Linked DNA regions of Homo sapiens: region 1 is linked to region 2. The links come from fine-mapping of genetic effects on gene expression. A gene starts in region 2. The other region holds a variant in brackets. All regions are shown on one strand. Distances are between the middles of the regions. Region 1 holds the start of ANPEP (alanyl aminopeptidase, membrane). Region 2 holds the start of MESP2 (mesoderm posterior bHLH transcription factor 2).

Region 1 (15,346 bases), 39 kb after region 2:
AGCAAACAGTGTCTGGTTACAGGCTGCAGGCGGCCTGGGATCAGGCCCGAGGGCTGAAGGGCAGGCTTCCGGCTGTAGGCCCAGTGGGCAAAGCAAGCGGCCAGGTGGCATTGCATTGATCTGCTTGAGAGCTGAGAGGGTGGGAACAGCATCAGAACTGAGGTTAGAGTCAGGGAAGGACTTCCCAGGGGCAAGAGGTGGGAGGTGCACAGAGAAGGGGTTCCCGGCTCCTATTAAGAACACACTGGGGTCACCCCTTTGGTTGCATCTCTGGAAGGATGCCAGGGGCTCCTCAGTGACAAGGTCCCAGCCTCCCTTGCATTCTTCAAGAGCAGGGAGTTCCTCCAGGTTCCCCTCCCTGCCGCTTCTTGCCAAATACTTTTTCCTCCATTATCAGCTCACGGAATAAAATGAAATGAGTTGTTTTGCTTTTTTTGCTGAAGGCTTCACCTCTTTCCAGCTGTGACCTTGAGCAGGTAACTTTACCCTTCTGAACCTCTCTCCTCATAAATAAATAACAGTATTTGCCTCTCAGGTTTGTTGAACAGATTTAGTGAGAAAACATATTAAACACCAAATAGTAGAATGATTAAAAATCATTCCCGGCTGGGCGTGGTGGCTCACGCCTGTAATCCTAGCACTTTGGAAGGCCGAGGTGGGTGGATCACGAGGTTAGGAGTTCAAGACCAGCCTGGCCAACATGGCGAAACCCCGTCTCTACTAAAAATACAAAAAAAATTAGTTGGGCGTGGTGGCGGGCGTCTGTAATCCCAGCTACTTGGGAGGCTGAGGCAGAGAATTGCTTGAATCCGGGAGGCAGAGATTGCAGTGAGCTGAGATCGCACCACTGCACTCCAGCCTGGGTGACAGAGTGAGACTCAAAAGAAAAAAGAAAAAAATCGTTCCCTTCTTTCTTACCCAAAGCTCAACAATTGCCTCTTTCTATCCTTGGTAGAAATGAAGATATTACTTACCATACAAAATAAAATACACACCTTACAGGAAAATTATGTTCATTGTCACTTTCCCCATCCACCAGCCCAGTTTCTCAGACCTCGACACCGCCTGACCTCACTCCACATCCAATTCACCCACATTCCCCCATCGCAAGATGCACTTGGTCAAAACCATTCTCATCATTTATGTGGACACAGCAGCGCCCCTATGGACTCCCTGCCTCCATTCGGGCCTGCTTGAACCTGCTCAACACAAATTGGATCATTTTATGCCACTGCTAAAAAAAACCTTCCTTTTGCTTGTAGAGTCCAGACCAGACCTTCTAAAGGCACCCACAAGCCCGGGTACAGTCAGCCTGCCCATTTCCTGGCCTCTTCCCCCCTGTTGCAGTACCCCAGCCACTCTGGCCTTCATCAAGCCCCAGGGCCTTGGCACAACCTGTTCCCTCTGCCTGGATCTTCTCTTCCCTATTGCCTTGGTTAATTCCTTTCCATCCTACAAGTCTTCCGCAGCGAAGCCGCCCTGACCTCCCTGACCAAGTCAAGCTCCTATGAGCTCCATTAGCTCCACAGACCTGTTCTGCAAAGCCCCAGAACTCAGCGTGGTTTTCCCTTTGATCTGTGTGGTGATAACTTGAGTCCTGGACTGCAGGCCCCATGACAGCAGGGCCTCACCAGCACTTAGCACAGTGCCTGGCACACAGTAGGTCCTCATTACTGAGATGTTGAGTGGATGCGCACATGCACGAAGGATTGAGTAAATGAATGAATGAGTCAGTCCAGGAGAAACTCCTTACCAAAGTCTTTCTGGCCTCTGTCTCCCAGCTTGTCCCCACCCCACACCTGCCCCCAGAAGAAGTGCCTGCCTCTTCTGAGCCCTTCTCCAAGCATGGCAGGCAGGCCGGACTCGTGCCAGGCCCCAGCATGTCAGGGCCCCACATGCCTTCCTGCTCCCTCAGCTCTGCTCCCTGAGGGCCTCACTCGTCTGCCACCCCTGCCACCCCTGCCACCCCTGAGCTTGCAGGAAGGCTTCTTAAATAAATGCAATGTGTGAACTGAAGGGACACGTGGATTAGTTCAATCAGGCATAAGCAAAACACAAATACCTGCCGCCTCTCGTCTGGTGTATGGAGGCCGAGTCTGAGCCCAGGGTCTTTAGGGGAGTCCTGGGTGCCCACCTTTGAGACTGAGGGTGTTCTGAGCCTTTGGCATTTCCCCAAGGGGCCTTGGTCTGGGACCAGGATGGACCTCCCACTGCAGTGACTAGCAGACACCCCATTAGGCTTGGGTGATGACCCCAAGGGGCAATCGTGCGAAATCAGGTGTCAGGAAGGGCTCCAGCTTGGGCGTGGTGAGAGAAGGAGCAGTGGCTCCCAGCACATGCTGCCAGGCTCCTCCCATCAGGGTGGATGGAATTCGCCAAGGGAGCCCATCTTTACAGCACCCCCCAGGCTGGCACTGGGGCACCATGCCTGCCCCTGAAAAGCCTTTTGATATGTCCCTGACGGAGCCTGCAGCCCCCTCCCACCTTTGCAGCAGAAAGACCCACAAGTCGGCCTGGACTAATCCCTTTTCTAAACAAAGAAAGAGGCCCTGCCTGGCCCACCATACTCTCTTCCTGTTTGCTTTGGATTCAGACCATAGGCCCAGCTGGCTGGAATCTTTACTCTTCTGGACAAGGCCTCTGGTCTTCCAAGTTGGTGCAGCAGGTAGCCCAAAGTTGGCTCTATAATGAGAGGTCCCTGCTCTAGGCACCAGGCCAACCCAGGCTGGGGGCACAGAGACAGCCATGCTCTGCAGCCCCCACCTTCAGGAACACACAAAAGGGCTTCCCTCGTCCAGTCCCCTGCCACAGCCCAGGCCTGGCCACCTCCACACCCCATCGGGCAGTGGCGGCTATGCTACCCTCCCCTGTCACCCAACCCCACCAGCACACGTCAGCAGAGGGCTCTGCCTAAGAGTGTGGGTGGGACTCTCCCATTCAAACCTGGTGCCCAACCTGCAGAGTGAAACCTTAACTCTGGCTTGGGCCTTAATACCTTCTGTGAACTTGACCCTCTGGCCTGTCCTCTTTCTACTGCCCACTGTGGCTCCAGCTGCCAGCGTCTCCCCAGATCATCGGGGCTTTTTCATACCTCTGTGACTTTGCTCATTCTGTTCCCACTGCCAGGAATGCCTTTCCTCTCCCTCTTGTCAAACTCCTACTCATCCTTCAAAACCCAACTCAATGTCACTGCCTTATCATGCACACCAGCCCCCACTCCCCTCTGCGCTTCCCCAGTCTCCAGTTCCCACCTCTATCACAGCACTTAGGAAAATGCCACTGAGGCTGAGCGCGGTGGCTCATGCCTGTAATCCCAGCACTTTAGGAGGCTGAGGTGGGCAGATCACGAGGTCAGGAGTTGGAGACCAGCCTGGCCAACATGGTGAAACCTCGTCTCTAATAAAAATACAAAAAATTAGCTGGGCATGGTAGCAGGTGCCCGTAATCCCAGCTACTCAGGAGGCTGAGGCAGGAGAATCGCTTGAACTCGGGAGGCAGAGGTTGCAGTGAGCCGAGATTGTGCCACTGTACTCCAGCCTGGGGGACGGTGTAAGACTCTGTCTCAAAAAATAAATAAATAAATAAATAAATAAATAAAAATACAAAATTAGCTGGACGTGGTGGCGCACGCCTGTAGTCCCAGCTACTTGGGGGGCTGAGGCGGAAGAATCGCTCGAACCCAAGAGGTGGAGGTTGCAGTGGGCGGAGATCGTGCCACTACACTCCAGTCTGGACGACAACAGAACGAGACTCTGTTTCAAAAAAGAAAAAAAAAAAAGAAAAAGAAAAATGCTACCAGTGTGTTCAAAAGCCTGCTGCTGCACCCAAGCACCTCAAAGGAAGGCCTGGTGGCATCGTATGCCCCTCCATGCCCAGCACAAGGCAGGAGCCCAATACATGTTGGCCAAATGAATGACAACACCCACAGTCCTTGCCGTGACCTACAGGGCCTGTGTGATCCAGCCCCCAGTGATTCTCTGGCCTCATCTCAAACGCTCTCCCCTGTCACTTCTGTGCTCCACCCCAGTGGCCTCTTTCAGTTCAAATCCAACCTGCTTTTCCCCGCTTCATTCTCCCTTCCTCCCTACACACAAGCTGATCCTTGGGCCTGGAAAGCTTCCTGCCTTTGCTTCATCCACTCCCCACTTGCCCTGGAGACACAAGTCAGTGGTGCTGCCCCCAGGCAGCCCTCCAAGTGCCTCCATGAGGGTAGCACCAGGTGTGCCGTATCCTCTACACCTGGCGTGCAGTGGGAGGGCAACACGTGCTTGTGGAATGGGGCATCAGTGCAAGAATGAGAGACAGCAGTTAAGGATGGAACTTCAGAGCCTTGATCCTCGGGACAGGTTCCACCCTCTCTACCCGACATTCCTTCCTGGGCTTCTGGGCTGTGCACAAACCACCTTCGTGATCCACCTTTGTGATTATTTACTTCGTATTTTTCTTTAAATCAATTCACTTTCTTAGCCTCCTTCTGAGCGATAAAATCATGGTTGGATGTGTTAATTTATATTAACAATTCATGACTATTGGTTTAAAAATTGTTCCTGGGCCGGGCGTGTTGGCTCATGCTTGTAATCCCTGCACTTCGGGAGGCTGAGGCGGACGGATCACGAGGTCAGCAGATCGAGACCATCCTGGCTAACACGGTGAAACCTCATCTCTACTAAAAATACAAAAAATTAGCCGGGCGTGGTGGTGGGCGCCTGTAATCCCAACTACTCGGGAGGCTGAGGCAGGAGAATGGCATGAACCCGGGAGGCGGAGGTTGCAGTGGGCCGAAATCGTGCCACTGCACTCCAGCCTGGGCGACAGAGTGAGACTCCATCTCAAGTAAAAAAAAAAAAAAAAAGAAAAAAAGAAAAAATTGTTCCTCTAGGTAGCTCCTAAAAGGATCCTGTCCAGTTGCACCCGCTTTGGGAACTGCTGCTCCACCCTGTATGATGTTGGGGTTGCTGGCCCTGCGGGTTGTCTTTGGTGCAGGCTCTTTCTGCCAGTGAGCAAAATGCATGTGTTCCTTTCGCTGTGAATTTCTTGACGGGGTAGAAGCCGAGCTCTCAACCCACTTCAACTAAAGCAGCCTTTCTATGGGTTTATGTATTTCTTCCCTGCCTATGTTTTAGTCCAGAAAACGTAAGTTCTTCTAAACTAAAACCAAAGCCAAAACCAAAAAACATGAAGGTTGACAACGATCATGCCAGGGCATAACTAAGTCACAGTCACAGTGTGGAAGACACCCACACTTGTGGGTGGGGAGAGGCTCCTTGGTCTCAGATGTGAAGTGCAAGAGGCTTTCTACTCTAATATGAAGACTCCAGGAGCCTGGGAGGGGCTGTGGCCGGGAGAGCTGAGCACCCGTGGCCGGGTGAGCTGCTGTGTTATCCATGCTCCATCCCCGACCACTGGGTCCTTGGGTAGGCCCCACCCACTCCCACTCAGTGTCCCTGACTGTGAACTATGAGACTGGGAGCTCAGGGACAACCTGGGGCTCATTGTCTGCTCTGAGGGAGCAGTGAGCGAGAAGGGTAGGGACGAGGCTGGGCCTGGGCCAGGGCACACTCTGTCCCCGCAGGCCCCTGGCTTTCTCCCAGGCTTCTGAGGCCTCCGCCCATAGCTGCATCACCCCAGGGTGCTTCCTCTGGGAGCCTTGGACATTGCCCCTCCTGCAAGAACCTCAGAAGGCCCCAATGGGAAGTTGCCTCTCATCAGCCTCTTCAGCCCAATGCAGGGCACACAGGAGGAAGGAGCAGAGGCATTTGTGGGTGGGGGAAGTACACATAGGGTTTGTGTGGGGCCACAGATCCTGCCTGGCAACTCCTGTCTGCCAAATGGGGGGTGATTATCCTGGTGAGACACATGGTAGGTGAAACTGAGCACCTACTATGTGCCCTACCAGGATAATCACCCCCATTTGGCAAATGAGGACACTGAGGCACAGAAAGGTTAAGTGATTTGCCCAAGGCCACACAGCTAGTTAGCAGCAGGTTCCACAGCTTAACTACATATGCCTCCTAAAAATGTCCTCCCATACAGCCCCTCACATCTACTGTGGCCGTGCCAAGGGGAGTTGAAGACCACAGGAGAAGACACGCACCCATTTGGCCAGACCAGGGCTGGGAGCTGGGGGTAGTTCTCAGAAGTAGAACTTGTTAGCCAGGGAGTGCTGGGGGCTGCTTCCAGACACAGGCCTGTGGAGGACCCACATCTTGCCTCCAAGGTGTGACTGGGACCACTGTAGGGCCAGGAGTGACAGGCACCCGGGGTGAAGCCCGGGCTAGGGATAGATGGCTGCCAGCCTATGTGAATAAGGACACCCCAGGGCCTCGGTGTGCGGCTGACACACTGTCCATGCCATGCCTCCAGGGCTGTCCAGGAGCCCCAGCATAGGGTTCCAGATCTCCCACCAGAGCCAGCCCAGGAACTGGACCCAGTTCCAACACCTTGGCTCCTTCCGACATGGGGACCCCCATCTATGTCCTCAGAATGCCTAGCATACAATTCTTACAGCGATGGGGCTGGAGGCCTTAGCTTAAAGGCTGTAGGGGTGTAAGGAGCGCCAGCGTGTAACGAAGGTCTCATTCCCCAGAAGGCTCTGGGGGAAGCACAGGGCAGGCGGCTGGGCTGCCTCAAGACACTGGGCCGGTTTCCCCACCTGTGAAGCGGGAGCAGCGCTGTGGGTGGCCTCCTTGCACTCATAGTGTGGCCTTCGAGGCTAGGGCTCCACAGGAAGGTGGCTGAGAGTGGATGAGGGCCTCATGGGCCCAGCACACCCTCCCACAGGGAGAGGGGAGTCCACCCTCTTCCCTGCCCAGCTCCCCCATACCCACTGGGGCTAGCCAGCCTTCCTGTGGGACAGAGGCTGTCCCCACTTCCTCCTGGTCACCCCTACCCCACACGCCCACCTCCCCTCCACAAAACACATACCCTGAGGGGCCCTCTGGTCCAAGCCTCCCCTTTCACAGGTGAATTAACTGAGGCCCAGTAAGGCCAGGGCGTTTAGAGACTCAGGGATGAAGCCACATCAGACCTCAGGTCTGGCTGAGACCAGGGCTCTGACCACCCCCGAACACGGCCTGGTGGGTTGCAGTCCAGGGGCTGAGGTGGGGGAGGAGTGGGGATCCAGTCACAAAACCCCAGGACATAGCCCACCTGGGCCGTCCCTGCCCACCGCACTGCTGGGGGGGGGGGGTGCGTTCTGGAGTCATTTGGGGAAAGGATCCCATTGGCCCTGTTTAGGGGACCTTTTCCCAGACCAAGAGTGGATTGCAATGGGGCCCTGGATCTGTCTCAGTTGCTCACCAGGGAGGGCGTGGAATAGGCTCCACAACCCCCAAACCTCGGTCCCCATCCATGCCCCGGCATCTTGGCCGGGTTGTAGGAGCGAGGGAGAACGCGACTGTAACGCGGGCGTTGAGCACCTAGAGTTCCCCTTCCTCTTCACTGAGAGCTGCGGCGGAGGCTTTAGACCGAGGAGCGAGATCTAAGGTTAAAGAAAGGGCCTCTGAGCCCAGTGTTGGCCAGAGACCCCACAGGCGGGCCGGGTTCGCCCTTTGCCTTCGGCCGCGCCCCACCCACCAGGGACAGAGTGGCCGCGGCCGAGCCGGGTCCACCCGCCGCAGCTTAGCTCCGCTCCGCCGCCCTCCCCGTCCGTCCTCCCCAGGCTCCCGTCGCCCTCGCCCACCCTGGGGCCCCCTCCCCAGATGGGAGCCCCTCCGACCCCTGCGAGGCCCGCTGGGGACCCACTTGACCGCGAGATCGTAGTGGGAGCTCGGCCAAAAGAATTCTTCGCTTTCCCTGGCCCTCAGTTTACCCATCTGGGAAGAGGGGCGTCGCGGCCGCAGAAGTCCAGCTCCGCACGCGCCAAGCGCTGGGTCTGCAGCTCCCTCGGTTCCCGCGCACCCAACTGCCCCACGACCCCTACCCGCGCCCGCAGCCCCCGCCCTCCCGCCCCACTTGCCTGGGCCGCCGGGCGCTGGAACCTGGACCCTGGACCCTGGCGGGTTCCGAGCTGCGCCGCCGCCGTCCCTGCCCCTCCAGCACTGGACTCCTCCTTTCCCGTCTTTTTAAAGGGA[A/G]GTAACCGGACCCGACCACTACTCCACCCGATTCACCCCTAGCGGGCCGCCCGCCCGCAGCTCCGCCCGGGCTCCTCCCCCGTCCGCCCGCGGCTTCCCGGGAGCCCCCCAGGGCTCCTCCGCTCCTCCGACGGCCCGGCCTTCCCCCCGGGGCCTGGGATGCACCAGGGCTCCTGCTGCCCCCGACGGGGTCCCTGTCGCCGCAGCCCGCGGGACCCGCCGGCCACATCTGGACGGCATCTGCCGCGGGGGAGGGGCTCAGAGCCTCGCCCTGAGTGTCCCGCAGGGAGCCTTGTGCATCCGGGGCAGGAAGCCAGCGCATCCCGTGCAGACGGGTGGTGCAGATAACGGACCCGCCACAGCACGCAATTCAACTTTCTTGGTACCTGGGACTCGTAGTTCAGAAGGCGCAGTAGCACGACCTTGCGAAAAAGCACCGGAGTCGGGAACACGCGCTTCTCATTTTTTTCTTTTTCCTTTATTTGTTTTTGAGACAGAGTCTCGCTCTGTCGCTCACGCTGGAGTGCAGTGGCACTTTCTCCGCTCACTGCAACTTCCTCCTCCTGGGTTCAAGCGATTCTCCTGCCTCAGCCTCCCGAGTAGCTGGGACTACAGGTGCACGCCACCACGCCTGGTTAATTTTTGGAGTTTTAGTAGAGACAGGGTTTCACCATGTAAGGCTCGTCTCGAACTCCTGACCTCAAGTGATCCGCCCGCCTTGGCCTCCCAAAGTGCTGAGATTACAGGAGTGAGCCACCACACCTGGCCTGCGCCTCTCATCTTGATCCTGCTTGCAGAGGTTGTGCAGCCACCGGAGCCCCGCCAGGGTGGGGCTCCCTGTCTCTGAGCAGCTTTAATGGGCGGTACCAGATAATATTTGTATTGGTTCCCTGTGGCTGCCGTAACACAAACATAAAACAACACTAATTTACTATCTTACAAGTTTTGTAAAATCAGAAGTCCAAAATGGGTCTCGCTGGACTAAAAGCAAGGGGGTTGAGGGATACAGCTTTCTTGAGGCTGGAAGGGAACCTGTTTCTTTGGCTTTTCTGGCTTCTAGAAGCTGCCCACATTCCTTGGCTGGTGGCCCCATCCATCTTCAAAGCCAGCAGTGGCCCACCAGTCTCTCACAATCTGTCACTCTGACACCAACTGTTCTGCCTCTTGCTTCCACTGGTGAGCATCTTTGTGATTACATCGGGCCTACCCAGATAATCCAGGGTAATCTTTCTATTTTAAATCAATGGATTGGCAACTTGAATTCCACCTGCAACTGTAATTTCCCTTCGTGGGGTAGCATAACATATTCACAGATTCTGGGCATTAGAACCAGGGCATCTTTTGAGGAGGAGGATATGATTATGTCTACCACAATATTCAAGCTGACTTCCAGACTTTCAGATTTATAATCAAATTTAAGCTCTTCCTTATCCATGATTGGAATCCTTGGGACAGTTAAAGCCTTGCACTGCATGGTCCAAATTGATGGCTTTGTGACTGGCTGTGTTTTATTATTTTACTTGCACTTGCTCTTCTTTTGGAAACTTCATGGAGGACCAGGGTACCTCTAGGTAGCAGCCTTGCTTCTCCTTCCTAATTTGCTCTGTACTCTTAAAAACCAGGTCACAAACATATCGGAATATAGAATTGTGTGTAAAGTAAGAGTAAGTAGGCTGTGAGTGAGACCTCAGAGGCTATTTTGTTTTTTTTCTCTCTCCAGTCTCATGCATGTCTGACTCTCTCCACTATCATATCTGGCATAATCTCCTCCATGTCTGACAAGCCAAGGAAAACACTACATCAGGCCAGGAGAGAATCTTCCCCCCGGAGCTCTGCCTCTCCCACCCAGGCTCCGCGGAGATTTTAAGAGGAGTAAAGATCCTGCTGTGGCAGAAGTGCAACCCAGCTTTCTGGAGGGCAGTTTGGGGTTAGGAATGAAGATCACTTTCAGAAATTTAGCCTGAAGAGGCTGGGCGTGGTGGCTCATGCCTGTAAGGCAGGTGGATCACTTGAGGTCGGGAATTCAAGGCCAGCCTGGGCAACCTGGTGAAACTGTGTCTGTACTAAAACACAAAAATCAGCCAGGTGTGGTGGCGCATGCCTGTGGTCCCACCTACTTGGGAGGCTGAGGCACGAGAATCGCTTGAACCTGGGAGGCAGAGGCTTCAGTGAGCTGAGATCACATGACTGCACTCCAGCCTCGACTACAGAGCAAGACTGTCTCAAAAAAATAAATAAATTTAGCCTAAGGAAATAGAATATTTATATGCAAGGCTTTTCACTGCAGTATTACTTATAATACTGGAAAATCAGAAATAGCCTAAGTGGGCTGGGCGTGGTGGCTCATGCTTGTAATCCCAGCACTTTGGGAGGCCAAGGCAGGCAGATTACGAGGTCAGGAGTTCGAGACCAGCCTGGCCAATGCAGTGAAACCCTGTCTCTACTAAAAATACAAAAATTGGGTGGGCATGGTGGTGGGTGCCTGTAATCCCAGCTACTGGGGAGGTTGAGGCAGGAGAATCGCTTGAACCCGGGAGGTGGAGGTTGCAGTGAGCCGAGATTGCGCCACTACACTCCAGCCTGGGTAACAGAGAGAGACTCTGTCCACCCCCTGTGAAAAAAAAGATGAAGAGACAGTGCTTGCTCCTGCAGAAAGAAAATTCATGGGCTCATAAACATGTAAAAAGATGTTCAATAACTCACTTATTAAGAAAATGAAAATTATAACTACAAAAGATACTATTCTTCACTTACCAGATCAGCAAAGATAAAAAGCAGTTTGGTAGGTCAGGCACAGTGGCTCATGTCTGTAATTCCAGCACTTTGGGAGGCTGAGGCAGGAGAATCACTTAAAACCAGGTGTTCGAGACCAGCCTGGGCCACGTGGCAAAACCCTGTCTCTACCAAAAAAAAAAAATTAGCCAGGCGTGGTGGCACGTGCCTGTAGTCCCAGCTACTTGGAAGAATGAGGTGGGAGGATTGCTTGAGCCTGAAAAGTCAAGGCTGCAGTGAGCCATGATCGTGTCACTGCACTCCAGCCAGAGCGATAGAGTGAGTCCCTGTCTCAAAAAAAAAAAAAAAAGTTTGGTAACACACTATTCGCAAGGGTGGGAGGAAAACAGGCAACCCCCTGCATTGCTGGTTGGTGTGTAGACTGACTCGACCTCAAAAGAGAATATTTGGGCAGTATTTATCAAACATATAAACACATGTCCTGTTTGACTTGGCACTTCCAGAAATTTATCCTACAGATAATGCTCACACGTAAGTGAAAGGAATACACAAGGCTTTCCACTGCATCGCTGCAACATTGAGCCAAAACCACAATGACTTTTGCACCAATCTAATAGCTGGAGACAACCTAAATGTCCACCAATAGAGATGGGATAAATGAATGATTATTGTATGCCCTGCAATGGAATGCATATGGCTATCAAAAATAACTAGGATTCTCCTTACAGAACGCTCCCCAGGACAGGTTGTTTAGTAATAAAACCTAGACGCAGAGCCGTGTTCAAGTCGTTTATCAATTGTACTTAAATGGAAAAAGCACAGAGACACACAATTTGCTTTTATATGTGCACGCGCTGATAACACGAGTTGTTTCCCAGGAAGGAAACTGGAGCTGGAGAACAGGGTGGGAAACGCATTTTTCAGCATATCCTTTTGTTCTCTTGAATCTTGAACCATGTGAATACCGTGTCTAATCAAAATATAAATAAAATTAAAAGTGAAGACGAAAGACCAGAAGATTAACAGGCTTTATAATATAATTTTTTTTTTGAGATGGAATTTTGCTCTTGTTGCCCAGGCTGGAGTGCAATGGCGCAATCTTGGCTCACTGCAACCTCCGCCTCCTGGGTTCAAGCGATTCTCCTCCCTCAGCCTTCCGAGTAGCTGGAATTACAGGCGTGTGCTACCACACCCACCTAATTTTGTATTTTTAGTAGAGACAGGGTTTCTCCATGTTGGTCAGGCTGGTCTCAAACTCCCAACCTCAGGTGATCCACTTGCCTTGGCCTCCCAAAATGTTGGGATTACAGGCGTGAGCCACTGCGCCTGGCTATAATATAAAAATTTGAATGCCAGGTGAGGTGGCTCACATCTGTAATCCCAGCACTTTGGGAGGCCGAGGCAGGGGCATCGATTGAGGCCAAGGCAACATAGCAAGACCCCATCTCTATTTTAAAAACTTTTTTTAACTTGGCTGGGCGCAGTGGCTCATGCCTACAATCCCAGCACTTTGGGAGGCTGAGTCAGGTGGATCACCTGAGGTCAGGAGTCCCGGCCAACACGGTGAAAATCTGTCTCTACTAAAAATACAAAAATTAGCCGGGCATGGTGGCAGGCACCGGTTATCCCAGCCACTCAGGAGGCTGAGGCAGGAGAATCACTTGATCCTAGGAGACAGAGATTACAGTGAGCTGAGATCGCACCATTGCACTCTAGCCTGGGCGACAAGAGCAGAACTCTTTCTCAAAAAAAAAATAAATAAAAATTATAAACTTATATTTGTGGATGAAATGATTTGATGTCTCAGGTTTGCTTTGACCTAATCCAGAAGGGGTGGAGAAGTCAGGAATGCTCAATACAGCATGATTTAAAATAGGGGAAAATCAGAAACAATTAGATGTTCAGTAATGGAGGATTGGTTAAATAAATTATGGGCTTCTATATGAAAAAAGTACTATGCTACCATTCTAAAAACAATAAATCATAGCTGGACGCGGTGGCTCACGTCTGTAATCCCAGCACTTTGGGAGGCCGAGGCAGGTGGATCACCTCAGGTCGGGAGTTCGAGACCAGCCTGACCAACATGGAGAAACCCCATCTCTACTAAAAATACAAAAATACCCGGGCATGGTGGCGCATGCCTGTAATCCCAGCTACTCAGGTGGCTGAGGCAGGAGAATCACTAGAACCCAGGAGGCAGAGGCTGCGGTGAGCCGAGATCGCGCCACTGCACTACAGCCTGGGCAACAAGAGCGAAACTCTGTCTCAAAATAATAATAATAATAATAATAATAATAAATCATATTTTAGAAGTATTGAAAGAGTACTTTCTGTTTTGTTTTGCTAATAATCGTGGAGTGGGAAGACCTTTTTAGGTATATGAAATCCATACTCCACAAATGAAAAGACCGCTACAGTTGACTACATAAAGGTAAAAATCTCTGCATTGCACAACCACCACAAGCAAAGTCAAAAAGAACCCTCCATAACAGGGGAAAATTAGCTATATGTTGCTAACTGTTGACTCTCAGAGATGGGTATATTGAGGGTTCATTATTACTGTTATTTTTTAGTGTGTTTTCAAATTTCCATAACAAAAGGAAAACTTAAATATATACAAACTTCTGTATGGCAAAAGCCAAATATTACACTGGACAATAATATTTGCAACACATATAAACAACAACAGATTAATATCAATAATGTCCTAAAAAGGTCCTACAAGGTGTTTGTAAAAGACATAAAAACAGGCCAGGCGCAGTGGCTCACGCCTGTAATCCCAGCACTTTGGGAGGCTGAGGCGGGAGGATCACGAGGTCAGGTGATCAACACCATCCTGGCTAACATGGTGAAACCCCGTCTCTACTAAAAAAAAAATAATAATAATACAAAAAATTAGCCGGGCGTGGTGGTGGTAGCCTGTTACTCCCAGCTACTTCGGAGGCTGAGACAGGAGAATGGCGTGAACCCAGGAGGCGGCGCTTACAGTGAGCCGAGATCATGCCACTGCATTCCAGCCTGGGCAACAGAGTGAGACTCCGTCTCAAAATAAATAAATAAACAAACAAACAAACATTAGGGCAGAATAGGACTTGGGAAAATAAAATAAAATAAAAACAACACAACTGAAAACCGGGCAAAGGATTAGATCTGAAACTTCACAGAGGAGGAAATTTTAAAAGCCAACTAACAGGTGAAAAGATGTTTAACCTTAGTCATACTCAGGAAACACAATTTCAAAACAATGAGATGTCAGTTTTCACTTATGATGTTGGCCAAGGTCTAGACCAACGGATAACATCTAGAGTCGGCCAGGGTGTGGGGAACTGGGATCCCCCCACAGTCCTGGGGCACATGGGAATCGCTATGAATAAAATGGCAAGCCCTATTCACAATTTAACCACAGCTACCCTTTCATCCAGTGATCCTGTTTTGGGGAATTTATCCTAAACCCAGGGAGTAACGAAACTACTGCTTAAACCATTCATGCAGGAGGAGGCTTATTAGAGCATTCCTTGTTCGAGAAGAAAAATAAGCCAAAATGTCTGTAGAGCACCCTTTAAACAAGTGAATAAAGGTCCACAGGAAACAGTGTACACAGTCACAGAGCGTGTGTGCTAACTCTGTATGTATCACCTTGGAATGATGTCTGTTCGTACATTTTTAAGTTCAAAAGCAAGTTCCAAGCAATGCATTTCATCTCACCCTCTATTACAACAGCCCCAGGGATTGTCCCCATTTTATAGAGGAAGCTGATGGCTCAGGCGTGAGTAACCACCCCAGGCCAGTGCCCAGCTTGTGTCAGACCTTCCGAGGAAGCCACATCTGTCTGACCCAGCAAAGCTGCAGGGTCCTCTCTCTGGGTGCGTCATTCGGGTGTATTGTCATGAGTGCTGGGATGAAATGGAAATGAACTTGCCAAATTATTAACCCACTCTGCCTCAGTGAGGTTGACTTGAGCCAGGGGTGGGCTGGGGGAGGGAGACAGGGGAGAGACTATCCATTTTTTCCTTATATGCTTGTTTATTCTTTGAATTGTTAGAACAAACGTGAGATTTTCATAGCAACCACCCACCACTACAAAACCATTAAAATACTGCTTAAAGGGTGAGGTGCAGTGGCTCATACCTGCAATTCCAGCACTTTAGGAGGCAGAGGAGGTTGGATTGCTTGAGGCCGGGAGTTCAAGACCAGCCTGGCCAACATGGCAAAACCCTGTCTCTACTAAAAATACAAAAATCAGCCGGGCGTGGTGACATGCACCTGTAATTCCTGCTTTTTGGGAGGCTGAGGCGCAAGAGTTGCTTGAACACAAGAGGCAGAAGTTGTAGTGAGCTGAGATCGTGCCATTGCACTCCAGCCCAGGCGACAGAGTAATACTCTGTCTCAAAAAAAAAAAAAAAAAAAAAAGAGAGAAAAGAAAAGGTGGAAGTGGGAGGGGCAGGCAGGACTCAGAATGATGCCTCCCTGCTCATCCTGCGTGGCATCCCTTGCTGCCACCTCCATCTCAGTAACTCAGCCCCACGTGGTGCTCGGAAGAG
Region 2 (15,346 bases):
GAGAAAGAGCAGGTGCAGAGCTCCTGTGCGCAGGGCTGTGGGCAGCCAGGTGGCTGCAGGGGCCTGTGCTAAGCCACCAAAGGCGGGCTGGACCAAGGGCATTGCCCTCTCTCACCCTGTAACAGGGCCAGGGCCGAATGAGCACATCTTGGGGGGCCAACCTGAGGCCTCTGCCCTCCCCACCCCACTGCTGGTTGGGGAGGAAGTGCTGGGAGGCCCATAAAGGGGTGGTGGGATGGAGGTCTCAAGATTCCTCACTGTCTAGAAGGAATACAGACGGGCATTACCTGCCTCAGGGCCAAGCTGGCCCATGCCACACAGGCAAGACCTGCACAAGATGATGGCAGCTTTGTGCTTCCAACCCTGAGAGCAGGCCTAGCCGAGCCACTGAGCTTCAGGCACCGACAAGAGTAGGTGTGCAGGTGGCCTGAGCTTGGGCACTTGGGAGGCCTCCCGCTGTGCTCCCCCTACTCAGGACACCCTGAGGACTCCCCTGTGTTCCTGCCCTGGGATTACCAGGAGTCCTGAAGCAGCAGCTCCTGTTCTCTCCCTAGTTGTTGGCCTGAGCTCTGAAACAACATCAGTGGTCATCAGGTCCAACCCCCTGTTTTACAGAGCTTGGCAGAGGCCGCAGCAGCCATCTGCTCCAGCTCCTGCACGTGCCTAACGTGTCGTCATCTGACCTTTTCTTGATTAGCTCCAGGAACAGGCCACTCCCTCCCCTACAAGACAGAGCCTCTGACTTAGAAAGTTCTTCAGACTCTCTCTGGAGCGTTCCCCTGGGTCCGTGCCTCTGCAGACAACCGTCACATCCCCTCCACTTTTTTCTTTTTGTACTCAATGCTCCCAGGTCCTCCAGCTATTTCACTGGTGACCTGGCTTCAAGCCCTCTCACCAGCCTCCCTAAGCTGGGATTTGTCCCCATCCCTCATGAACAGTGGCCTCCAGTTCTCACCACTTACTTCAGGTAGGGCCCATCCTGTCTGGAGAATAAGGAACCATCACCATCACTCCTCAGTTGAAGACCCCCCCTCAGTTGAAGACCCCCCCACCCCCGTCCCCACCCCTGCTTCTTGTGATTTTTTTTTTTTTTTTTTTTTGAGACAGTCTTGCTCAGCTGCCCAGGCTGGAGAGCAGTGGCGCGATCTCAGCTCACTGCAACCTCTGCCTCCTGGGTCCAAGGGATTATCCTGCCTCAGCCTCCCGAGTAGCTGGGACTACAGGTGCGCATCATCGTGCCTGGCTAGCTTTTTTGTATTTTTAATAGAGATGGGGTTTCGCCATGTTGGCCAGGCTGGTCTCAAACTCCTGGCCTCAAGTGATCCACCTGCCTCGGCCTCCCAAAGTGCTGGGATCACAGGCGTGAGCCACTGCGCCTGGCCTGCTTCTTGTGAATTTGCATGCAGCTTGGATCACATTTACTTTTATGCCCCTCATACTTTGAAGGCAATGACCACCATGCCCTCCCACATGTGCTGATTTTACAGGATGCCTCCTGACGTGAACTTGGAGAAGGGTACAGGGGACCTGCTCGTTCTATTTGATCAGGTCTGATGGGTTGTTCCAGCCTGTCAGGATTTATTTAGATACTGGCTGTTTCCCAAGTCACTTTTGGGTTTGGGTCTTACCCCACATTAGATCAGTTCATATCTTCATTCAAGATCATAATACTGCCCAGGAAAAGGCTGGGAACAGTGCCTGTGGCCCCTCACTAGAGACCTTCCTCCCAGTGAACATCCGCTCATTCATTTGTGGGAGCCCTGAATCTGTTGTGAATTCACTTAACTGAACCGTCATCCAGCTCACATGGCCCCATTGGTGATAAGGAAACTCTGGGAACTTCCCTATTATGTGGGTAGGAATTGTGTTTCGTTGCTCATAGTACCTCCTAAAATGACACTGACCTAAACAAGATGGTGATTTTTCTTTTTCTTTTCTTTCTTTTTTTTTTTTTTTTTTTTTTTAGCAGGGTGTATCACCATGCACAACACAAGATTACTAAAAGAAAAAGGCAAATAAAGGCTGTGTGGGCAACTAGCAGTGTCTGCCACACTTGTGAAACCCAAATACATTCTTCTGATCACGTTTCCCTGATCTAGCCACCATTCCTATCACAGAAAGGAAGATGTGAACCTGGTGCTACTAGCACACTGAAGCCCAGAATGTAATCACCTTACCCAATGGCACACAGCCACAGGCCCTCTTTTTAACAGGGGAACCAAATGAAGGGTGGAAACACTGAAAAGGGGCTGCAGGGTAGGATCCAAACCTGGCTTGTTTGCTCGGCACCTAGGGCAGGTTCCAGCACAGAGTAAATACGTGGCCCCACACCCATCCAGAAGTGGACCCCTTAAGGGCCCCAGGGCTGTAGGCAAGTTGGACAGGCATCCCTGCCAGGGCCCAACAGAAGAGAAAGGCTGGATATGGAGAGGTGGGGAGGGCAGGATGCCCTGGTTTGGTGTGGGAGCAGTTCCCAGAAAGCAAGGAATCACTTCCTTCTGGGACCAAGGCTGAAGATATCATTCCCCTTACTCACAGTCCAACCTATTCCTTTAATCACTTCTTTCTGCTGTTCCTGAACTTGCTGTAAGCATAACATCAGCCCTGTTCTAAACGTTATCACATGCATTATCTTATTTTACTTCAGTTATCCTGGAGATCAGAATACCCACTTATAGACGGGAAAACTGAGATTGAGTAAGTTGCCCAAGTTCTCCCAGCTGGTAAGAAACCAGGCCTGTCTCACTCTGCAGCCCAGACACCTGACCACTAAGCTGCACTGCCTCCCTGTGCTAAGTGGAGGCCCAGTTGGGGGATCCACTTGGGGTTCCCTCCTGGTGAGTGAGGCTAGCAGATAGAGTGCCCTTGTGCTTCCAGAGCCTAGCTGAGGAGTACAGGGAAGAGCCAGGGGCCACAACAAACCAGGCCCAGGGCCCCACCTTCCAGAACTTACACTGTAAAACCCACAGTCAGCCTAGGGTCTAGGCTCCAGGCTAGCTCAAACCAAGGTAGAAGGAGACCAGGCAATCTCCGAGAGGAAAGGATGTATGTACCATGTGCAGGGCTCTGTGCCTGTGGTGGAATCCCATTATATACCAAATCCCTCCACAAGAAATCCCTCAGGCTGGCTCTAAGGAGGTTGGGGGGAAATAATTCTGGATATTCAGAAGCTTCCTGGAGATCACAAGACCATCCACCACTGTATTCCTAGCTGTTTATGCACAAAGCAGCACTGCTGGGCAAAAACTAAAAATACAATAAAGGTGCATCAGTAAGTGGCTGTGCATGCCATGGACTACCATATAGCAGTTAAAAGGCATGAGTCATGCCTGTAATCCCAGCACTTTGGGAGGCCAAGGCAGGCAGATTGCATGAGGTCAGGAGTTCGAGTCCAGCCTGGCCAACATGGTGAAACCCTGTCTCTACTAAAAATACAAAAATTAGCCGGGCACGGTGGCACATGCCTGTAGTCCCAGCTACTTGGAAGGCTGAGGCACAAGAATCGCTTGAACCTGGGAGGCGGAGGTTATAGTGAGCTGAGATCACACCACTGTACTCCAGCCTGGACAAAACAGAGAGAGTGTCTCAAAAAATAAAAAAATAAACAAAAATAAAGGTGTGAGTCAGAAACATCAATAGAAGCCAGGCGTGGTGGCTCACACCTGTAAACCTAGCACTTTGGGAGGCCGAGGCAGGTGGATCACCTGAGGTCAGGAGTTCAAAACCAGCCTGGCCAACATGGTGAAACCCTGTCTCTACTAAAAATACAAAAAATTAGCCAGGTGTGGTGGCAGGCATCTGTAATCCCACGTATTTGGGAAGCTGAGGCAGGAGAAATCGCTTGAACCTAGGAGGCGGAGGTTGCAGTGCGCTGAGATCATGCCATTGCACTCCAGCCTGGGCAACAAGAGCGAAACTTCATCTCAAAAAAAATAAATAAATAATAAAGAAACACCAATAGAAACAGCACCTGCTCTATCTGAAATGCAGCACCTAGATCAAGACATATCTATGAAGCCTGATGAATTTTGTTTATAACTGTTGAATGGATACATGCAAGTTCCCTGATAGACAGTATGTCAAGAGCTTTATAGTGTTGTGTGGCCTCGGACCAATAAATGATGTACCTACACTACATGTGCCATTATTTCAACCCAAAAAGTCTAGGGGTGAATGTTTTACAAGTTGTCCCTTATTTCCCCTTAGGAAATAGTTGTTTTTTGTTGTTGTTTTTTTTAAATTTTGGTTTAAACCCTTTTAAGCCATGAAATGTTCCATAACTAACTGCTTCTCTCCAAAGAAAGCCTGTTTGAAATCTATCCCACCTTCTTTTCATGTTATGGACCAATTAAAATTTTCTCTTCTTTATTCATAGCAGCTAGAATAAACTAAACGATAGTTGTTTGCCCAGAGTTATTCAACACCAAGTGTTACTTCATCATAACGTTAGAGCAGTGACTTGGGCATATTTTCTCCGATATATTTCAAAATAAATTCTGAGGAGAAAAAGTGACATAATTTCATTATTGAAGGTGTATCCGTACCTTCTGCCATTTTACCTTTTTTCCAAAGTTAAAATTATTTACATGGGCTGCGTACAGTGACTCATACCTGTAATCCCAGCACTTTGGGAGGCCGAGGCGAATGGATTGCTTGAGCCCAGCAGTATGAGACCTGCCTAGGCAACATGGTGAAACTCTGTCTCTACAAAAAGTACAAATTTTAGCCGGAGTGATGGTGCACATCTGTAGTCCCAGCTACTCCGGAGGCTGAGGTGGGAAGATTACCTGAGCCCGGGAGGTGGTGGCTGCAGTGAGCGGTGACTGCCCCACTGCACTCCAGCCTGGGTGACAGAGTGAAACCCTGTCTAAAGAAAAAAATTATTTAAAGAGATAAACATTTAAAACATTTAGATCAACTATAACCAAGGTTTTGGTTAAATCTGTATTCGCAGGCAGTACTTTTTTTTTTTTTTTTTTTTTGAGACAGGGTGTTGCTCTGTGGCCAGACTGGAGCACAGTGGTACGATCATAGCTCACTGCAACCTCAAACTCCTGGGTTCAGGGGATCCTCCTGCCTCAGCCTCCCAAGTAGCTGGGACTACAGGGCCCACCCCACCATGCCTGGCTAATTTTTTTTTTTCTTAGATGCGGGGTCTGACTATGTTGCCCAGGCTGGTCTTGAACTCCTGGGCTCAAGCCAACCTCTCACCTCAGCCTTCCAAAGTGCTGGGATTATCCCCACTAAAAATTTGATCCATTATTTTTTTAAAGGGTGAGTCAGCAAAATATGTCCTGACATGGAATGCTCTGAAACATGCTGTTGAATGAAAAAAAAAAAAAAGAAAAAGAAAAAGAAAAGAAGAAAAACAAATTACAAGCTGACATTTACACATAACAATGTACATAATGTAACTGGAGGGTTACTGTGTGTTTGCTAAGGATACACGTTTATGTTAACCCACTGGCCAGGTCTGGAACTACACACACAGCCTAATAACAGCTGTTACCTTTTGGGGGTTTATGGGGTTGGTTAAAGAGACTCCAACTTTATCTGTAATGTTTCCATTTCTCACAGTGAAAGGTAGTAGTTACATAATTTGTGTAATTAAAAGTTAATTTTTGAAAATAGCCACGCCCTCCCTCAAAAAAAAAGAAAGAAACAAAAAAAAAGATTAGCCAGTCATAGTGGTATGCGCCTGTAGTCCCAGCTACTTGAGAGGCTGAGGCAGGAGGATCACTTGAACACAGTTTTAGGGTACAGTGAGCCAAGATTGCATCACTGCACTCCAGCCTGGGCAACAGAGTGAGACCCTGTCTCTAAAATTAAAATAAATGAAGCCTGGGCACAGTGGCTCACGCCTGTAATAACAGCATTTTGGGAGGCTGAGGCAGGCGATCACTTGAGGCCAGGAGTTCGAGACCAGCCTAGCCAACATGGCGAAACCCCATCTCTACTAAAAATACAAAAATTAGCCAGGCATGGTGGCGTGCACCTGTGGTCCCAGCTACTCAGGAGGCTGAAGCAGGAGGATTCCTTGAGCCTGGGAGGCGGAGGTTGCAGTGAGCTGTCACTGCACTCCAACCTGGGCGACAGACCCTGTCTCAAAAATAAAACAAATAATAAAATAAAATAAAATAAAATAAAATCAGCCACAAAAATATTACAAGGCAGCTGGGCCTGGTGGCTCATGCCTGTAATCCCAGCACTTTGGGAGGCTGAGGAGGGCAAATCACTTGAGCCCAGGAGTTCAAGACCAGCCTGGGTAAAACCCAACTCCACAAAAAATGATAATAATGATTAAATAATTACGAAGCCATTTGCTACTTCAGGCTGCTGCAGGTTAATCTCTTCTTGAACACCATTGTCATGTTGATCTTTAGTTAGTTATTAGCTAATGATTTTTAAAATTGTATCACCCTTCCGCTCAAAAGTCCCTATGGCTCCCAAAACCAACTCCTTAACCTGGCCCCAGCCCAGGTGTGCTCTGGCCTTCCACATCACCACCCCAGTGCCCTGCTCCTAAGGCATCTTGGAAGGTCCCAAGGCCAGGTCTTTGCTTATGCAGTTCCCATCCGGAAAGCACGGCACCTGCCTCTCTCCCTACTCAAATCCTACGCATGGTTCAAGGCCCAGCTATGACTTCTTCACCTCTGTGGCCAGAACCCTAATGTCCCTGGTCTTCTTTTGACTCTTAGCCTCAGGACTCAGCCCTTTCCCCAAGACCACACAGGACATTGACAATCTCCTTTAAACTGTAATTGTTGCTGAGAATATCATTTACTTTATAAATTTTACTATCTCAACTATCCCTTACACAATCCCATGTAGATACTATCATTATTCCTGTTTTACTGAGCAGAAGCTCAAGCTCAAACAGGTTAAGGGCTCTGCCTAAGGGCATACAGCTACTGTCATACAATGGCCTGTTCACTTTTCTTTCCCACAAGACTGAAATCTCATTAGAGCAGAGACCATGACTAGCTCATTCACCCTGTGTGCTCGACATTTACTGGTTGCTAAATATGAATTCGGCCAGGCGCAGTGGCTGACGCCTATAATCCCAGCACTTTGGGAGGCCAAGGCGGGTGGATCACTGGAGGTCAGGAGTTTAAGACCAGCCTGGCTAACATGGCAAAAACCAGTCTCTACTAAAAATACAACAATTAGCCAGACGTGATGGTGCATACCTGTAGTCCCACCTACTTGAGAGGCTGAGGCAGAAGAATCACTTGAACCCAGGAGGCAGAGGTTGCGGTGAGCTGAGATGGTGCCACTGCACTCCAGCCTGGACGATAGACCAAGTCTGTTTCAAAAACAAAAAAAAGAGAATAAATAAATAAATATGAATTAAATGAATAAAGTCCATTAGTGCCTTGAAATCTAAGTACTTTCCTTTTATTTTATTTATTTATTTATTTATTTACTTATTTATTTATTTTTGAGACGGAGTCTCGCACTCGCCCAGGCTGGAGTGCAGTGGCACGATCTCAGCTCACTGCAACCTCCGCCTCCCGGGTTCAAGCGATTCTCCTGCCTCAGCCTCCCGAGTAGCTGGGATTACAGGTGCCTGCCACCACACTCGGCTGGTTTTTGTATTTTTAGTAGAGACAGGGTTTCAGCATGTTGGCCAGGCTGGTCTCGAACTTATGACCTCAGGTGATCCATCCACCTCGGCCTCCCAAAGTGCTGGGATTACAGGCATCAGCCACCATGCCTGGCCAGTACCTTCTTTATAAAACGATCATGGCAAACCTTCAGCTCACTTGCCAGGGCCTAAGTGCTTTACAGGGATCGCTGTACTTAGTCCAGGAACCATCCTAGGCATAGGTATTTTGTATCACTATTGGTACCGATGAGGGAATCTGAGGCTCAGAGGAGCTAAATAACTTAACCAAGGTCACAGCCAATAAAGAGGCCGGCTTGGGGACCCATTTTCGCCGGTTTTCATCACCTAGGGTACCCAACTCCTCTTCCCCAACCTAATCTATTCCATTTCTCAAGAGTAGATACAGACCATGGGCAGTGAGATGCCTTTCTTGGTGTGTCACTCAACAAATCAGAAACTGTGGATTTTGGGGACCCCAGAAGGGCCCACCTGCACTTCTTCCTCAGCCACCATGGGCAGGGCCCTCCGGGCTTGTCTTGATGCCTTATTTAATACAACAGTAGGCACAGCGTCCTGGGCACAGACCTCCGGGAGGTTAGTGATGAGAGAGGCACCCACTCCTCACGGGGTCCCTGAGGCACCCACAGACCATGGCACTACCCGCCTCTGTTGGGCTCCCGGGCACTCACCGTGAGCAGTGGACGGGGCAGGGGCGTGGGTGGGAGCGTGGTGAGAAGCTTAGCAGCTCCATCCAGATGCGAATTGTCCCTCCCATACTTCCCGGGCTGCAGGGGCCTCCATTTAGAGCCCCCAAGGAGTCAGAATCCACACCTCCGCAAATGGGCCCGCTTTCCCAGGGGCCCCCTGCCCAGACTTTCCCTGGGCTCTGTGGGTTTTGACACCTCTCTGCAACCTGGCGGGGGGCCACCTCGCACCTTTGGTCAACATAAAAGCTCAGGCCTGGAGGTGGCCAACCCAGCCTCCCAGAGCCTGCAGCCCGGCCATGGCCCAGTCGCCTCCTCCGCAGAGCCTCCTCGGCCACGACCACTGGATCTTCGCCCAGGGCTGGGGCTGGGCCGGCCACTGGGACTCCACGTCCCCGGCCTCCTCCTCCGATTCGTCGGGTTCGTGCCCCTGCGACGGCGCCCGCGGACTCCCGCAGCCACAGCCTCCGAGCTGCAGCTCCCGAGCCGCAGAGGCAGCCGCGACGACGCCCAGACGAGCGCGCACCGGACCAGCGGGCGGACAGCGGCAGAGCGCCAGCGAGCGGGAGAAACTGCGCATGCGCACGCTGGCCCGCGCCCTGCACGAGTTGCGCCGCTTTCTGCCTCCCTCCTTGGCGCCGGCCGGCCAGAGCCTGACCAAGATCGAGACGCTGCGCCTGGCCATCCGCTACATCGGCCACCTATCGGCCGTGCTGGGTCTCAGCGAGGAGAGTCTGCAGTGCCGGCGCAGGCAGCGCGGGGACGCGGGGTCCCCTTGGGGCTGCCCGCTGTGCCCCGACCGTGGCCCCGCAGAGGCGCAGACGCAGGCGGAGGGGCAGGGGCAAGGGCAGGGGCAGGGGCAGGGGCAAGGGCAGGGGCAAGGACAGGGGCAAGGACAGGGGCAAGGGCAGGGGCGCAGGCCGGGCCTGGTCTCCGCCGTCCTCGCCGAGGCGTCCTGGGGATCCCCGTCCGCCTGCCCCGGAGCCCAAGCCGCACCCGAGCGCCTGGGGAGGGGGGTCCACGACACGGATCCCTGGGCAACACCCCCTTACTGCCCCAAGATACAGTCGCCCCCGTATTCGTCCCAAGGGACAACCTCCGACGCGTCTCTTTGGACGCCACCCCAAGGCTGTCCCTGGACGCAGTCGTCCCCAGAGCCCCGGAACCCACCAGTGCCCTGGACGGCGGCCCCAGCAACTTTGGAGCTGGCCGCAGTGTACCAGGTATGTGTGGAGGCCCTTGCTGTGTTCCCCAGCCTCCAGTCTGCAGAGAATCTCGTACTTTTTCGATCCCAGCTTATCTACTCCAGGATTATCTAACGGAGGGGAGAATGGAAGGAACCCCCGGCTCCGTGGGAGAAGAGATGGGACCCTGGGAAGTTAAGGCCATCTCCACAGTCACCACAAGCAGTCTTCACAGCCATGGGAAAGAGGGGGAGCCCGCCGACTTTCTCAGAGGGTGGAAAGTAGCAGGGTGGGCGTGCTGGCTTCAAGTGCTATTAAGACTGCAGTGGGGGAAGGAAGTCCCAGGGTAAGGGCAGCATTTCCTGAGTAGATGGGCCTAGAGCTGGTGATTTCAAGTTTTCTTCAAGATTCGTTCATTCATGAGGCTCATGAATGACTCATCGTCCATAAAAAATCATATTAACCAAAATTTGTTGAACACTTTCTATGTGCCCATCATCATTCTTGGCACCTTACATGTATTATTCAGCCCCAGTAATGACCCTAGGAAGTAGGTATTATCAGCATCTCTATTTTACAGGTGAGAAAACTGAGACTAAAAGAAGCTACCTGAGTTCTCATTACTAGTGAGTAGCAGAACTGGGATTTAAGCCTTAGCAGAGTGTCTCCCGAGCCAGTCCTCTTAACCACTTGGCTTTGCTGCATTCATGGCACCAGGGCTGTCCGGATGCTGCCAGCCATACCATGGCAACCAGCCAGATTCAAGATCTCTGGATATCAGGGAGTAGCCCACTAACCAGGCTGCTCTCATCTCTCTTGCAGGGTCTCTCTGTGTCTCCAGAGCCCTGTCTGTCGCTGGGAGCTCCATCTCTCCTGCCCCACCCATCATGCCAGAGACTGCAGCCTCAGACCCCCGGGAGGTGCTGGAGCCACAGTGCAGAGGTGGTGCCCAACTCAGAGGACCAGGGACCGGGCGCCGCCTTCCAGCTCAGTGAAGCAAGCCCTCCCCAGAGCTCAGGCCTGCGGTTCAGTGGCTGCCCTGAACTTTGGCAAGAAGATCTGGAGGGGGCCCGCCTGGGCATCTTCTACTAAATGGCCTCGGCTTCCCTCTTTCCATCCAGGAATCAGTCCTGTAGCTTGGGTGCCTCCTTATTTGTTAATTAGTGGCTTTTCATGTTCTCCTTTAGCCAAGGCTCCCTTTTTCCAAGTGATGTCTTTCAGGGAAGCAGTGTTTGAAATAGATAGCGGGTACCTTCCCTGGATGGAGTCAGGGCGGGGGCACTGTCCTCCACTGCTAGACACCCCCAGAATGCCTGGCGCTCTGCAGAGCACAGTCTGAGCTGCTCTAAGAAGGGGTCTCCTTTACCCTAAAGGCAGCTGGGCAGGGACAGGTGGGAGAATGGGTGTAGGAGGCAGGCCCCAGGCTCTGCTTCTTGGTGACAGTTGGCCAGAGCCCTGTATGCTTTGATTTTTTTGTACTTAAAAAGAAAAAACACACACACACAACAAAAATTTGGTTTGGCCTTGTTTTTTGTTCATCAACCTGGGTTTTTCTTGCCTCTGGAAAAGGAAACATGTTTTCCTTCTGTGGGGAACAAGTTCTGCTGCTCTTTCCTTCTCTAATCCAGGCCTGCCAAGGTTTGGGTGGGCCCTCATTTGTCAGTTTGACCATATTTATTGCACTGGAGCTCCAGGGCCAAAAGCTCCACCTGGCTTGCTGTGCAAGGTAGCACAGGTGGGCTAAGCTTGGGCCTGCCCACTTGCCTCAGCCACATCACCACTGCCCTTTTGTGTTCTTCGGGTGCATTCCTGGTGACTGCTGGGGTGGGTGCATGCAGCTGTGGACAGACAGACAGGAGCCCCAAATGGGGAGACCACAGTCCCAGAGACCTGTCATTTAGGGCTCTTTCACAATGACATGAAATTTTCTTCAAAGAATACTGGGAGTGGTTCCTACGTGCTAGGCCCAGTGTATTAGTTTGCGAGGGCTGCCATACTAGAATGCCACGGGCTGAGTGCAGTGGCTTACGCCTGTAATCCCAGCACTTTGAGAGGCTGAGGTGGGAGGATCCCTTGAGGCCAGGAATTCGAGACCAGCCTGGGCAACATAGCAAGACCTTGTCCCTACAAAAAACTTAAAAAAACAACAACCACAGACTGGGTGGCTTAAACAACAGAAATTTATTTTCTCACAATTCTGGAGGCTAGAAGTCCAAGATCAAGGTGTAGGCAGGTTCAGTTTCTTCTGGGGCCTCTCTCTGTGGCTTGCAGATGACTGCCTGTTCGTTGAGCCCCTACATGGTCACACATCTGTCTCTATTGTCTGTGTCCTGATTTCTTATAAGGGCACTAGTCATGTTGGATCAGGACCTACCCTAAGGGACCCATTTAACTGTATTTACTCTTTTAGGGATCTTTCTTCTAATACAGTCACAGTTACATTCCGAAGTATTGGATGTTAGGGCTTAAACATAAGAAACTTCTTTTTTTTTTTTTTTTTTGAGACAGAGTCTTGCTCTGTCGTCCAGGCTGGAGTGCAATGGTGCAATCTCGGCTCACTGCAACCTCTGCCTCCCGGGTTCAAGCGATTCTCCTGCCTCAGCCTCCTGAGTAGCTGGGATTACAGATGCCTGCCACCATGCCCGGCTAATTTTTGTATTTTCAGTAGAGACAGGGTTTCACCATGTTGGCCAGGCTGGTCTCGAACTCCTGACCTCAAGTGATCCACCTGCCTCGGCCTCCCAAAGTGCTGGGATTACAGGTGTGAGCCACCACACCCAGCCAAACATAGGAAATTTTTTTTTTCTTTTTTTTTGAGAGGGAGTCTCACTCTGTCGCCCAGGCTGGAGTGCAGTGGCATGATCTCAGCTCACTGCAACCTCTGCCTCCCAGGCTCAAGTGATTCTCCTGCCTCAGTTTCCCTAGTAGCTGGCCTAGGTGCCTGCCACCATGGCTGGCTACTTTTTGTACTTTTAGTAGAGACAGGGTTTCACCATGTTGGCCAGGCTGGTCTTGAACCCCTAACCTCCAATGGTCCACCCGCCAAGGCGTCCCAAAGTGCTGGGATTACAGGCGTGAGCCACCACGCCCAGCCAGACATAGGAATTTTATGGGAACACAGTTCAGCCGCCTCAGCCTCCCAAAGTGCTGCTATTACAGGCATGAGCCACTGCGCTCAGCCATACAGGAATTTTATGGGGACATAATTCAGCCCATAACACCATGTGTTAGGTGCCAGAGAGAAAATATTCCCCAACTAATGTGAATTACAGGGAAATAAATGATCAGAGCCCAGGTCCTAAACACAAGGATGGGGGTTTGTGTGAGGTGCTTAGGGACCAGGATGCGGTAACCTGGTGGGAGGCGAGGTTGGCAGTACCATCTCATTCTTGAGTTACCTGATTCCTTAGTCCTGCTGCCTTGATTGCGGTGTCTTAAGAGTAAGAGGCACTGCCAGGATCTTGGGAAAAGGATGCCAAGATCTATTAGCAAAGGCTCCCGTGGGCATGGGAGCCAGCAGTGGTGGTAACTTCCTTCTGTATCTGCTGACTCAGGGAGGAGAGAGTGCAGAAGAGGTGACCTTGGAGCTGGGTGTTGAAGGATATGCAGGAGTTTATCAAGAGGAGTGAGGGAAGAGAGGTCCAGGCAGGAGCAACAGCATGAGCCAAGTCGAAACAGAAGCGTCTAGTGTCTAGAGATGACAGAGAAAAGTGGCAAACAGAGCCGGAAAGGGGCTTGGAGGCAAGTTTGTGGGGAGTTCCACGTGGTGGGTGATGAGGTTTTGGCCTCCGTTTCCCGAATGATGGGCAGCACTGAGGGTTGGGAGTTGGGGGTGAGCTGGTAAGAAGTCTGCTCTCAGTCCCTTCGGCCGCTTCATAGAAATGGAACCAGGCAGGAGGCCACTGCAACAGTCCAGCTTGAGAGAAAGGGAGAGGCAGCACAGAGCATGAGCTGCCTGATTTCCTGGGCTTGAGCTCTTGGCGTGTGGGGCTTTCCCCTCTCATCCTGCAAGGTTGCCCGTTGCCTCTGACACGCCCTGTGGCATCAGGCAAGTCACTCTTTCTGAGCTTCAGTTTTCACAGTTCCTAAAGGAGGAACTATCTTGGGTGGTGCTGAGGTACCTTCTTCCTCTAACCTTCCAGAAGTGCTCTGGTTCTGCCCTTAGGGCCCTGCTGTCCCGAGGGGCTGTCAGCCACAGCTGGAAGGATGAGAAAAATCCAGGCAAGGTTAGAGTAGACACACAGCATTGGGGCCCAGGTTGCGCATTCTACTCGGCTCTTACTTGCTGTGTAACCAAGTGAGACTGACAGATAAGCTTTGGAACCTCCCTGAGCCTCAGTTTCTTCAACTGTGAAGTGGAGACAATAATAGACCTACCTCTCAGGGTTTTAATACTTGGCACATAGTAAGTGCTCAATAAAATGAGTACTGAGGCCAGGCATGGTGGCTCACGCCTGTAATCCCAGCACTTTGGGATGCCAAGGTGGGGTGATCACTTGAGGTCAGGAATTTGAGACCAGCCCGGCCAGCATGGTGAAACCCCGTCTCTACTAAAAATACAAAAAATTAGCCTGGCGTGGTAGTGAGCGCCTGTAATCCCAGCTACTCAAGAGGCTGAGGCAGGAAAATCGCTTGAGCCCAGGAGGTGGAGGTTGCGGTGAGCGAGATCGTGCCACTGCAAGCCTAGGCGATAGAGTGAGACTCTGTCTCCAAAAAAAAAAAAAAACAAAACAAAAAAAGGAAAAAGAAAATGAAAGATTGCGTTAGCTATGCTGACTCCACAGTCTCGAAAGGCTGAGTCAGAGGAGCCACCAAGGCTGCTGCCTACAGAGCCTCAGCACCTTCCATTCCTGCTGGACTTGAGTGCTGAGGGCAGGCAAGAGCGCTGGGCAGGGAATCAGCCGCCAGAGTTCTAGTTGGTTCCTGCTCTTTGACCTTGACCAAGGCTCTGCAGGCATTCCTCTGGCTCTGTGTATCCTCACTGCATTCCAGGATCAGCCATGGAGGTCCTGATGAGTGCCAGCATTGTACACTGCCAGGTGGCATCGTCAGAGGTGTTTGAACCAGAGCGATTCCATCTTGAATAGGGGCTAGGCAAAATGAGGCTGAGACCTGCTGGGCTGCATTCCCAGGAGGTTAGGCATTCTTAGTCACAGGATGAGACAGGAGATCGGCATAAGATACAGGTCACAAAGACCTTGCTGATAAAACAGCATGCAGTAAAGAAACCAGCCAAAACCCGCCAAAACCAAGATGGTGACAAAAGTGACCTTTGGTCATCCTCACTGCTCATTATGCGCTGATTATAATACCTTAGCTGCTAACAGACACTCCCACCAGCGTATGACCGTTCACAAATGCCACAGCAATATGCAGAAGTTACCCTGTATGGTCTAAAAAAGGGAGAAACCCTCAGTTCTGGGAAATCCCCACTTCTTTCCCAAAAAACTCATGAATAATCCACCCCTTGTTTAGCATATAATCAAGAAATAAGGCTGGGCGCGGTGGCTCACGCCTATGATCCCAGCACTTTGAGAGGCTGAGGTGGGCGGATCTCCTGGGGTCGAGAAACCCCATCTCTAATAAAAATACAAAATTAGCCGGGCATGGTGGTGCATGCCTGTAATCCCAGCTACTTGGGAAGCTGAGGCAGGAGAATCGCTTGAACCCAGGAGGCGGAGGTTGTGGTGAGCCAAGATCGCACCATTGCACTCCAGCCTGGGCAACAAGAATGAAACTCCGTCTCAAAAAAAAAAGAAAAAAAAAATCAAGAAATAGCTCTTAAGTTTACTCAGTTGAGCAGCCCATGCTGCTGCCCTGCCTGTGTAGTAGCCATTCTTTGATTCCTT

The links. PIP is the estimated chance that this variant, and not a neighbour inherited with it, causes the effect.
Region 1: its variant is fine-mapped to the expression of MESP2 in whole blood (TOPMed, PIP above 0.99). The same link has a PIP of 0.9 or more in blood mononuclear cells and monocytes.

Annotation. Positions count from the first base shown.
Region 1 is chr15:89,806,815-89,822,160 of GRCh38, forward strand. It overlaps ANPEP (alanyl aminopeptidase, membrane), which reads right to left and starts at 8,038. Exons shown (of 21, transcript NM_001150.3): 1 at 7,958-8,038. RefSeq lists promoters at 1-1,514, 1-778, 1-164, 7,974-9,128, 7,974-8,462, cis regulatory regions at 8,077-8,082, 8,334-8,462, 8,370-8,373, 8,372-8,401, 8,419-8,421 and 2 more and enhancers at 2,509-2,653, 7,607-8,106, 14,962-15,346. The variant A/G (reference allele first, on the strand shown) is at 8,073.
Region 2 is chr15:89,767,746-89,783,091 of GRCh38, forward strand. It overlaps MESP2 (mesoderm posterior bHLH transcription factor 2), which reads left to right and starts at 8,587. Exons shown (of 2, transcript NM_001039958.2): 1 at 8,587-9,536; 2 at 10,320-11,009. The coding sequence starts at 8,613. The coding sequence ends at 10,589. It overlaps LOC124903550 (a long non-coding RNA gene), which reads right to left and starts at 8,864. Exons shown (of 2, transcript XR_007064751.1): 1 at 8,545-8,864; 2 at 4,349-7,306. RefSeq lists enhancers at 1-608, 14,193-14,252, 15,317-15,346 and a silencer at 8,851-9,010.